Linked DNA regions of Homo sapiens: region 2 is linked to region 1. Evidence: fine-mapped expression QTL. A gene starts in region 1. The other region holds a variant in brackets. All regions are shown on one strand. Distances are between the middles of the regions.

Evidence for each region. PIP is the estimated chance that this variant, and not a neighbour inherited with it, causes the effect.
Region 2: its variant is fine-mapped to the expression of PDE6G in whole blood (INTERVAL, PIP above 0.99).

What each region holds. Positions count from the first base shown.
Region 1 is chr17:81,653,898-81,659,262 of GRCh38, forward strand. It overlaps PDE6G (phosphodiesterase 6G), which reads right to left and starts at 2,645. Exons shown (of 4, transcript NM_002602.4): 1 at 2,596-2,645.
Region 2 is chr17:81,622,870-81,628,234 of GRCh38, forward strand. All of the region lies in intron 2 of NPLOC4 (NPL4 homolog, ubiquitin recognition factor), which reads right to left. Among named protein-coding and RNA genes, the nearest start is that of NPLOC4, 12 kb to the right of the region's middle. The variant G/A (reference allele first, on the strand shown) is at 3,046.

The DNA of each region.
Region 1 (5,365 bases):
CCTCCCGGGTTCAAGTGATTCTCCTGCCTCAGCCTCCCCAGCAGCTGGGATTACCGGCGTCTGCCACCATGCCCGGCTAATCTTTGCATTTTTGCATTTTTAGTAGAGACGGGGTTTCACCATGTTGACGAGGTTGTCTCGAACTCCTGACCTCATGATCCACCCGCCTCAGCCTCCCAAAGTGCTGGTATTACAGGCGTGAGCCACCGCACCCGGCCCAGCTGCTACTCTGATGAAAGTCCTCTGTGGCTCCTGCTGGGAATGGGCCTGCCAGGCCCAGCAGAGGAGCCTGCCTCTGAGCTGCCCTTCCTGATGGTTAGTGGGCTGCCTCCATCTCAAGTTCCCGCTCAGGGAGGTCTCCCCTGAACCCCCGCCCTGCAGCCACTGTGTCCTTAGGTTCTGATTTGCCGCTTCTCATCACGCGTCGAGTTAGCCCTGATTCCAGGCTGGTGGGCGTCTCCCGGGCTGTTGCCCTCTGATTCTTTTTTTTTTTTTTTTTTGAGACAGAGTCTTGCTCTGTCACCCAGGTTGGAGTGCAGTGGCGAGATCTTGGCTCACTGCAACTTCTGCCTCCCGGGTTCAAGTAATTCTCCTGCCTCAGCCTCCGGAGTAGCTCAGATTACAGGCATGCGCCACCACACCCAGCTAATTTTTCTTTGTGTTTTTAGTACAGATGGGGTTTCACCATCTTGGTCAGGCTGGTCTCAAACTCCTGACCTTGTGATCCACCCGCCTCGGCCTCCCAAAGTGCAGGGATTACAGGCGTGAGCCACCGCGCCCGGCCTAAAAAAGTTTTAATACCTGCCAAAGTAGCCCCCTAGGATCCTATTCCAGAGCTGTGGCTGGAATCTCACCTTTTTTTTTTTTTTAGACGGAGTCTCGCTCTGTTGCCCAGGCTAGAGTGCAGTGGCACGATCTCAGCTCACTGCAAGCTCCACCTCCTGGGTTCACGTCATTCTCCTGCCTCAGCCTCCCCAGTAGCTGGGACTACAGGCGCCCGACACCACGCCCGGCTAATTTATTTTTTTTTTTGTATTTTTTAGTAGAGATGGAGTTTCACCATGTTAGCCAGGATGGTCTCGATCTCCTGACCTCGTGATCCACCCACCTTGGCCTCCCAAAGTGCTGGGATTACAGGCGTGAGCCACTGCGCCCGGCCAACCCCTCTGATTCTTATTGATGGGTTTATTGCTTTCTGCCTCTTGTCTGTGCTTTGCAGTTGGGGTGCTGTCAGTTCCCTTCACCCACTCACGGAGGCATCCCTGAGCCCCTCAGCACCATGACGGGCACCCCGCAGTGCTGATGGAGAATGACCCACAAAATGGGGGGCAGGGTCCCCAGGCACGGCGCCCCTGGGAAAGGGGCCTGTCTCAGAGACTTGGTGCTGAGCTGTGAAGCCCTGCGTTCCCCAACCCCACTTCATAGAGGGACAAGCTGGGGCTTGGGGACGGAGGGTGCCGGGCATGTGTTCCCCCTGCTGGGGGAATCACCAGGCCCTCTCTGTGTCTGGAGTCAGCTCGGGGAGCAGGGTCACCCGCCTGGCGTGGCGTGGCGTGGCTGAAGGGCCTCGGCCGCTCTGGACGAGATCAGTGTCCCTGCACTGCTGCACAGGGTGGCCTCTCCTCCTCCTCTCCCTACAGCCTCTCCCCAGATGCCCTAAGCCCCAGTGACCTGGGCCAAGGGCAGTTCAGCTTCCCCTAAGCCTATTAACAGCAGAGGGGAATTCCTAATCTCCCATCGAGCTGCTGTCAGCTGCACATGCTGCCGGAAAGTTCTGGAAGGAGGCACATGACACAGACAGGAGGGGCTGCTTGCCCGCACTGGATGCCCCAGGGACCACCTCTTGGGGTCCCCTTTCCTGCCCCTGGTCTTTTTGGCTGGGATTCCTGACTCCAGCCCTGGGCTACTACCAGCTGTTTGCCGAGCTTCAGGCGTGAGAGTGATCAGAAAGCAAGGGCAGGTGGCCCATTTTGGGGACGCGGGCTCTGCAAGGGGTGCTGGGCACCTGGGATTGGGGTGGACCCTGCCATGGCACCTTCCCTCACTAAGGTTCAGCCTCTGTCCCCGGGACTGGGACCAGCACCAGCCTGTGCAAAACCAGCACTCAGGAGCCCGGTGGTCCCAGCTGCTCAGATCCCATGGCACCCAATCCTCATATCCTAGATAGCACAGGCCCCGTCCAGCTGCTTCTCCAGCCCTGGGACATGGGCTGTCCTGGGCAGCTCTGGGCCCTGATGGAGCTCCAACCATCAGATGCCATCCATGTGGAAACCGCTGCCTGCGCTGCCCTGGCCCGACCCAGCCTGTGACTGGCGTCCACTCAGGTCAGCTGAGCCCACGTGGCCTGAGGTTCCCAGACCATCACTGGCCTGGGGATGGTGGAAGCACTGGTTACCATGGGGGAGCAGAGGAGGAGGTTGGCTGGGAGTCCCCTCTGAATAACAGGGTGGCGGGTAGGCATCTGCAGACCCAGACCTCAGCCACGGTGGTAAAAGCCTGTCAGCTCCCTCTGCCCCTTGGGTGATGAGCAGACCCCCACTGACTCACTGGGGGAAGTGGCTGCCAGGAAAGACAGCGGGGTTGGCCACTACTCACCAAGTGCAGGGCGGGTCTCAGGGGGCTGTGCTGTGAGTGCTGGGCCTCCCTCCGCAGGGTGCCAGCCCCGGCCTTTATCTCGCTGCTTCATGAGCTGATTAGGCGTCTCAGTGCCACCCTAATGAGATTGTTGGGCCCCGAGGGGGGGCACAACCACCAAGGTTCAGGGGATGGAGAGGAGGGGCTCAGGTGCTGTCAAGGGCTCCAAGGAAGGACACCCAGCAGATGGGGCCGGGACAGGGAGAGAAGTGTGACCCTGAACAGCCAGGCTCCTGCAGCTGCCCATCTTCCAGATGGAAGCAACCACAGTGTCTGCTGTCTTGGGCCTCCCTACTGCCTTTCCTGACCCTGCCTGATCTCTGAAGGGCCCACCTTCATGGTCCCCAAAACCCTCTGCAGCCTGGCCCTCACCCGCTGCTGTGGCCTCACATCTCACCCCTCCCACCCCAGGGCCTTTGCACCTGCTGCTCCTGAAACCAAACAAGGACCCCCCCCCGCCCTTAGGGGCCTGTGGGTCTTCCCAAGCACAGAAGCAAGGACAATGTTGAGTTCCTTCAAGGGCAAGCCAGGCCCCCAGCCAGCCCAGAGAAGGAAATGAGCAGCCGATCCACAGGAAGGTCACAAGAAGGTCACAGGAGCTTAGAACAACAGATGGAAGCCAGAGTCCCGAGAGTCTCCACAGAAGCAAACCATGCCATCTTAGCAGGTGCTCCTCAGTTGTTTTCCAGAAACAGGGACTCCCACCAAAGGGGCGTGCTGGCACACAGACCTCACATGAGCGGGAGCTGAGGACTGGCCTCTGACCACCCTTCTCTTACCTAAATTTCTTCCTGAGGGGCCTGGAGGAGGCTATGCCCATCCTGAGGGGCCTGGAGGAGGCCATGCCCACAACCCAGAGCTAACATTCTTTCCTGCGGATCCCAAAGTTTTAGACAAAGATTCGCTTCTGCACCAAATCAGAAAACCTTTGAATCCACCTATGACCCGTGGTCCCTGGCTTCAAGATCTCCTTGCTATTTATGGCAAAACCAGTGTACAACCTCCATGTACTGATTTATGACTTGCCTGTGACCTCTGCCTCTGCACCTTTAAAAACCCATAACTCAGGCCTGGTGTGGTGGCTCATGCCTGTAATCCCAGCACTTTGGGAGGCTGAGGCAGGTGGATCACAAGGTCAGGAGATCGAGACCATCCTTGCTAACATGGTGAAACCCCGACTCTACTAAAAATACAAAAAAATTAGCCGGGCGTGGTGGCATGTACCTGTAATCCCAGCTACTTGGGAGGCTGAGGCAGGAGAATGGCGTGAACCCGGGAGGCGGAGCTTGCAGTGAGCCGAGATCGCGCCACCGCACTAGAGCCTGGGCGACAGAGCGAGATTCTGTTTCAAATGAATAAATAAATAAATAAATAAATAAATAAAAACCCATAACTCGGCCGGGAGCAGTGGCTCTCAAACAGCGCTTTGGGAGGCTGAGGCAGGAGGATCACTTGAGGCCAGGAGTTCAAGACCAGCCTGGACAACATAGTGAGACCCCCCCATCTCTACAAAAAATAGAAAAAATTAGCTAGGTGCAGTGGCTCACTTCTTATTTTATTATTTCATTTTTGAGACTGAGTCTCGCTCTGTTGCCCAGGCTGGAGTGCAGTGGCCTGATCTCGGCTCACTGCAACCTCTGCCTCCTGAGTTCAAGTGATTCTCCTGCCTCGGCCTCCTGAGTAGCTGGGATTACAGGCTCCCACCACCACGCCCAGCTAATTTTTAATATTTTTAGTAGAGACAGGGTTTCACCATGTTAGCCAGGATGGTCTCAATCTCCTGACCTCGTGATCTGCCCACTTTGGCCTCCCGAAGTGCTGGGATTACAGGTGTGAGCCACCGTGCCTGGCCACAGTGGCTCACTTCTATAGACCCAGCTACTTGGGAGGCTGAGGCAGGAGGATCCCTTGAGCCTAGGAGCTCGAGGCTGCAGTGAGCCATGGTCAAACCACTCCAGCCTGGGGGACAGAGAGAGACCCTATCTCTGAAGAAATATGAAAATTTTGAAAAATTAAAAATAAAACCTGGACGGGCATGGTGGCTCACGCCTGTAATCTCAGCACTTTGGGAGGCCGAGGCAGGTGGATTACTTGAGATCAGGAGTTCAAGACCAGCCTGGCCAACATGGTGAAACCCTGTCTCTACTAAAAATACAAAAATTAGCTGGGCGTGGTGGCATGCACCTGTAGTCCCAGTTACTCAGGAGGCTGAGGCAGGAGAATCGCTTGAACCCAGGAGGTGGAGGTTGCAGTGAGCTGAGATTGCACCACTGCACTCCAGCCTGGGCAACAGTGAGACTCTGTCTCAAAAAATAATAATAAAAATATAAATAGTAAAATAAAATAAAATGTATGAGTACTCCTTTTTTGGTATCATGTATCACAGACAATATACAAAGACAATCACATGAAAATACATAAAGCTCCAAATAGACCTAAACAAAGACCCTATAGCCTTGATTGTAAAACTCTAGCCATGAGACTGGCAAAAATCACTAGTCCAGAAAGGACGGCTGGATTCAAGTTATGCTGCAATAAATGGAACAAGTCAAAAACCTCTTGTCCCACATGGCTCAATCCCTCACTCAGCCCCAGAGGAAACAAGATTGCAATCCATATCTTTTTTTTTTTTTTTTTTTTTTGAGAGACAGGATCTGGCTCTGTCACCTAGGCTGGAATGCAGAAGTGAAATATCGGTGGCTGCAGGAATTCAAGGCTGCAGAGAGCTATT
Region 2 (5,365 bases), 31 kb before region 1:
TTCAATTTCCATTTTTGAATTCAATTGTAAAAACCCAATTCCAGGCCAGGCGTGGTGGCTCATGCCTGTAATCCCAGCACTTTGGGAGGATGAGGTGGGAGTATCACCTGAGGTTAGGAGTTCGAGACCAGCCTGACCAACATGGTGAATCCCCGTTTCTACTAAAACTACAAAATTAGCCAGGCATGGTGGCACATGCCTGTAATCCCAGCTACCCGTGAGGCTGAAGCAGGAGAATCACTTGAAGCTGGGAGGCAGAGGTTGCAGGGAGCCGAGATCGTGCTATTCCACTCCAGCTTGGGCAACAAGAGCAAAACTCTGGCCGGGTGTGGAGGCTCACACCTGTAATCTCAGCACTATGGGAGGCCAAAGCAGGTGGATCACGAGGCCAGGAGTTCGACACCAGCCTGGTCAACATAGTGAAACCGTCTCTACTAAAAATACAAAAATTAGCCAGGCATGGTGGCGCACACCTGTAATCCCAGCTACCCGGGAGGCTGAGGCAGAACTGCTTGGGCCTGGGAGGTAGAGGCTGCAGTGAGTCGAGATCATGCCACTGCACTCCAGCCTGGGTGACAGAGCAAGACTTTGTTTCAAAAAAAAAAAAAAAAAAAAGCAAAACTCTGTCTCAAAAAAATAAAAAACCCGGCCGGGCGCGGTGGCTGACGCCTGTAATCCCAGCATTTTGGGAGGCCGAGGCAGGCGGATCATGAGGTCAGGAGATCGAGACCATCCTGGCTAACACGGTGAAACCCCGTCTCTACTAAAAATACAAAAAATTAGCCGGGCGTGGTGGTGGGCGCCTGCAGTCCCAGCTACTCGGGAGGCTGAGGCAGGAGAGTGGCGTGAACCCGGGAGGCGGAGCTTGCAGTGAGCCGAGATCGCGCCACTGCACTCCAGCCAGGACGACAGAGCGAGACTCCGTCTCAAAAAAAAAAACAAAACTCAATTCCAATTCTGAAACCTAACACAGAATGGTGCGACTAAATCATAAAACGTCCACTGTGCAGGGCACTTTGCTAGATGCTGGGAATATTCACTCATTCCTTCAACAAATATTAAGCAGTTCTATGTGCTCAGCTCCATTCTGGGTGTTCAGATCACAAAAATGAACTAGAAAAGACAAGGTTTCTGGCCGGGCGTGGTGGCTCATGTCTGCAATCCCAGCACTTCGGGAGGCCAAGGCGGGTGGATCACTTCAAGTCAGGAGTTCAAGACCAGCCTGACCAACATGGTGAAACCCCATCTCTCCTAAAAATACAAAAATTAGGCCAGGTGTGGTGACTCACGCCTGTAATCCCAGCACTCTGGGAGGCCGAGGTGGGCGGATCACGAGGTCAGGAGATCGAGGCCAGCCTGGCCACCTTGATGAAACCCCATTTCTACTAAAATACAAAAATTAGCTAGGCGTGGTGGCGGACACTTGTTATCCCAGCTACTCAGGAGGCTGCGGCAAGAGAATTGCTTGAAACCAGAAGGCAGAGGTTGCAGTGAGCCAAGATGGCGCCATTGCACTCCAGCCTGGGCGACAAGAGTGAAACTCCGTCTCAAAAAAACAAAAACAAAAACAAAGACAAAAATTAGCCAGGCATGGTGGTGCACGCCTACAGTCCCAGCTAGTCGGTGGGCTGAGACAGGAGAATCACTTCGACCTGGGAGGCGGAGCTGCAGTGAGATGAGATCACGCCATTACACTCTAGCCTGGGCAACGGAACAAGACTCCACCTCAAAAAAAGAAAAACAAAAAAAAGACAAGGTTCCTGCTGTCAAGCAGTTTACCAACAAATGGGGGAGACAAAGTCAACAAAGGTCGAAATAAGCACTACGACAGAAAAGGAAAAGAAACCTCAGATGGGAGGCTAGAAGTCTCTCTGAAGAGCTTCAGCTGAGCAGGGCCCACCCAGCGGTGGGTAAGCCCGCCACACGCGAGCTGGGAGAAAAGGCCACAGGGAGTAGGAGCAAGCACAAAGACCAGGAGGCAGGAAGGGTGTTGGAAACACGGAGGCCAGAGGCCAATAAACAATAAGGAAGATGGAAAGAGATGAGGCTGGCGAGGCAGACAGGGCCGTGGGAAGCCACACAGACGAAAGGCAGGGGGAATCATCATCCACAAAATCCCTGTTGCTCAACACCACACTGAAGAGGAAGCTAGAGTGCCAATTAGAGACAAGAGAGATGGGCTGAGACAGGGGATGAGATGGGACAGGATGGTGGGGATGAAGGCAAGAGCACACTTTCCAGCAGTGGTCATCACCAGGCCCAGCTGACGAGCAGGACCAGGGGCAGGAATGGAATGAGAGAAAGGAAGGAGGTCAGAGTAAAGCTGAGAATTCTAGATTGAGAAACTATGTGGAGGTAACACCTGTGCAGGGACCATGAAAGGAAAGGCTAAAAAAGGAAGAAGACTAGAGGGAAAATCAGGACTTCCATTTGACACTGAGATCGGAGGTGACAACCAGACACACTGCAGTGAAGCCGTCCAGCAGGCAGGTGGGCGCATCTGTGTCTGAGCCCAGGCAAGGGGCCAGAGCAAGAGCTCTACACCGAGGGGTCATCAGAGTAGATGTACCCAAATAAAAGGAATGTGAATCTCGGTAAAGAAACAAATCATAAAAGAACAATCAAATGGAAATTCTAGAACTGAAAAACACAAGAACAGAAATAAAAAATTCACTGAACGGGCTTATCAGCAGAAGGGAGAGAGCAGAAGAGTCAACCTAAACATAGGTGAATAGCTTGTGGTCCCAGCAACTCGGAAGGCTGAGGTGGAAGCACTGCTTGAGCCCAGAAGTTTAAGGCTACAATGAGATATGATCACACCACTGCACTCCAGCCTGAGCGACAGAGTGAGAATCCAACCAACTCTAAAAAGAAAAACATAAATGAATCAATAAAAATAACAGCTATATAATCTGAAGGCAGAGATTTGGGGAAAAAAAAAACAGCCTTAGGAACCCATGGTACAGGATCAAATGCTCCTCACTAGAAAAAAATGAGGGTTGGGCGCGGAGGTTCAAGCCTGTAATCCCAACACTTTGGGAGGCC[G/A]AGTTGGGCAGATCACCTGAAGTCAGGAGTTTGAGACCAGCCTGGCCAACATGGTGAAATCCCATCTCTACTAAAAATACAAAAATTAGACAGGTGTGGTGGTGCACCCCTGTAATCCCAGCTACTCAGGAGGCTGAAACAGGAGAATCGCTTGAACCTGGGAGGTGGAGGTTGCAGTGGGCAGAGATTGCGCCACTGCACTCCAGCCCAAGCGACAGAGTGAGACTTCATCTCAAAAAAAAAAAAAAAAAATTAGCCAGGTGAGCTGGCACGTGCCTGTAATCTCAGTTACTCGGGAGGCTGAGCCAGGAAAACCGCTTGAACCCCGGAGGCGGAGGTTGCAGTCAGCCAAGATCGCGCCACTGCACTCCAGCCTGGGCAACAGAGCGAGACTCCATCTCAAGAAAAAAAAAAAAGAAAAGAATGAAAATAGAACAGAAAAATACTTAAGAGTGGGGAAAACCCCAAAATTTAATGAAAAACATCAAATAGCAACTCCAGGAAGTTCAGCAAACTCTCTCAAGTTAAGATACAAAGAACACCACTGCAAGGCACACCAGAGTCACCCTACTGAAAGCCAGAGGTCAACGAAGACGAGAAGACCAAGAAGACGGTGGAACGACAGCTTCAAATGCTCAACAGGACCAGGCACCGCGGCTCCCGCCTGGAATCCCAGCATCCAGGAGACAGAGTGGGGAGGATCACTTGAGGAAATCAAGACCAGCCTAGACAACATGGTGAAACCCCATCTCTACCAAAAAATTAAGAAATTAGCTAGGAAGCTCACGTGGGAGGATCGTTTGAGCCCGGGAAGTCAAGGCTGCAGTGAGCTGTGACTTTGCCAGTGCACTCCAACCTAGGCAAAAATAATAATAATAATAATTTTAAAATGGACTGGGTGAGGGTGGATCATACCTGTAATCCCAGCACTTTGGGAGGCTGAGGCGGGCGGATCACCTGAGATCAGGAATTCGAGACCAGACTGGCCAACATAGTGAAACCTCGTCTCTACTAAAAATACAAAAATCAGCTGGGCATGGTGGTGCGAGCCTGTAGTCCCAGCTACTCGGGAGGCTGAGGCAACAGAATCACTTGAACCCGGGAGGCGGAGGTTGCAGTGAGGCAAGATTGTGCCGCTGCACTCCAGCTTGGGCGACACAATGAGACTTCGTCTCAAAAAAAAAAAAGAAAAAGGGCCAGGTGTGGTGGCTCACTCTTGTAATCCCGGCACATTGGGAGGCCGAGGCAGGCGGATCATGAGGTCAGGAGATCGAGACCATCCTCACTAACACAGTGAAACCCCATCTCTACTAAAAACACAAAAAACATTAGCCGGGCATGGTGGCGGGTGCCTGTAGTCCCAGCTACTCGGGAGGCTGAGGCAGGGAAATGGCATGAACCTGGGAGGCAGAGCTTGCAGTGAGCCGAGATCGCGCCACTGCATTCCAGCCTGGGCAACAGAAAGACTCCGTCTCAAAAAAAAAAAAAAATTGATGCATGGTGGGGAACAAAAATGAACTGTCAACTCAGAAATCTGTTTTGAGGCCAGGTGCAGTGGCTCACGCCTGTAACCCCAGCACTTTGGGAGGCCAAGGCGGGTGGATCACCTGAGGTCAGGAGTTCGAGACCAGCCTGACCAACATGGTGAAACTCCATCTCTATTAAAAAGACAAACTTAGCCGGACTTGGTGGCGTATGCCTGTAATCCCAGCTACTCGGAAGGCTGAGGCAGAATTGCTTGAACCCGGGAGGCTGAGGCAGGAGAATTGCTTGAACACAGGAGGCAGAGGCTGCAATGAGCCAAGATCATGCCATCACACTCCAGCCTGGGCAACAAGAGCGAAACTCTGTCTCAAAAAACAAAAACAAAAATTAGCCAGGTATTGTGGTGCACACCTGTAATCCCAGCTACTTGGGAGGCTGAGGCAGGAGAACTGCTGGAACCCAGGAGGCGGAGGTTGCACTGAGCCGAGATCACGCCACCACATTCCAGCCTGGGCGACAGAAAAAGACTCCATCTCAAAAAAAGAAATTTGTATTGAATGAAAATATCCTTGGGAGGCCAAGGCGGGCAGATCACGAGGTCAGGAGATGAAGACCATCCTGGCTAACATGGTGAAATCCCGTCTCTACTAAAAATACAAAAAATTAGCCAGGCATGGTGGTGGGCGCCTGTAGTCCAGCTACTCGGGAGGCTGAGGCAGGAGAGTGGCGTGAACCCGGGAGGCGGAGCTTGCAGTGAGCCAAGATCATGCCACTGCATTCCAGCCTTGGAGACAGAGCGAGACTCCCTCTCATAAAAAAAAAAAGAAAAAAAAAA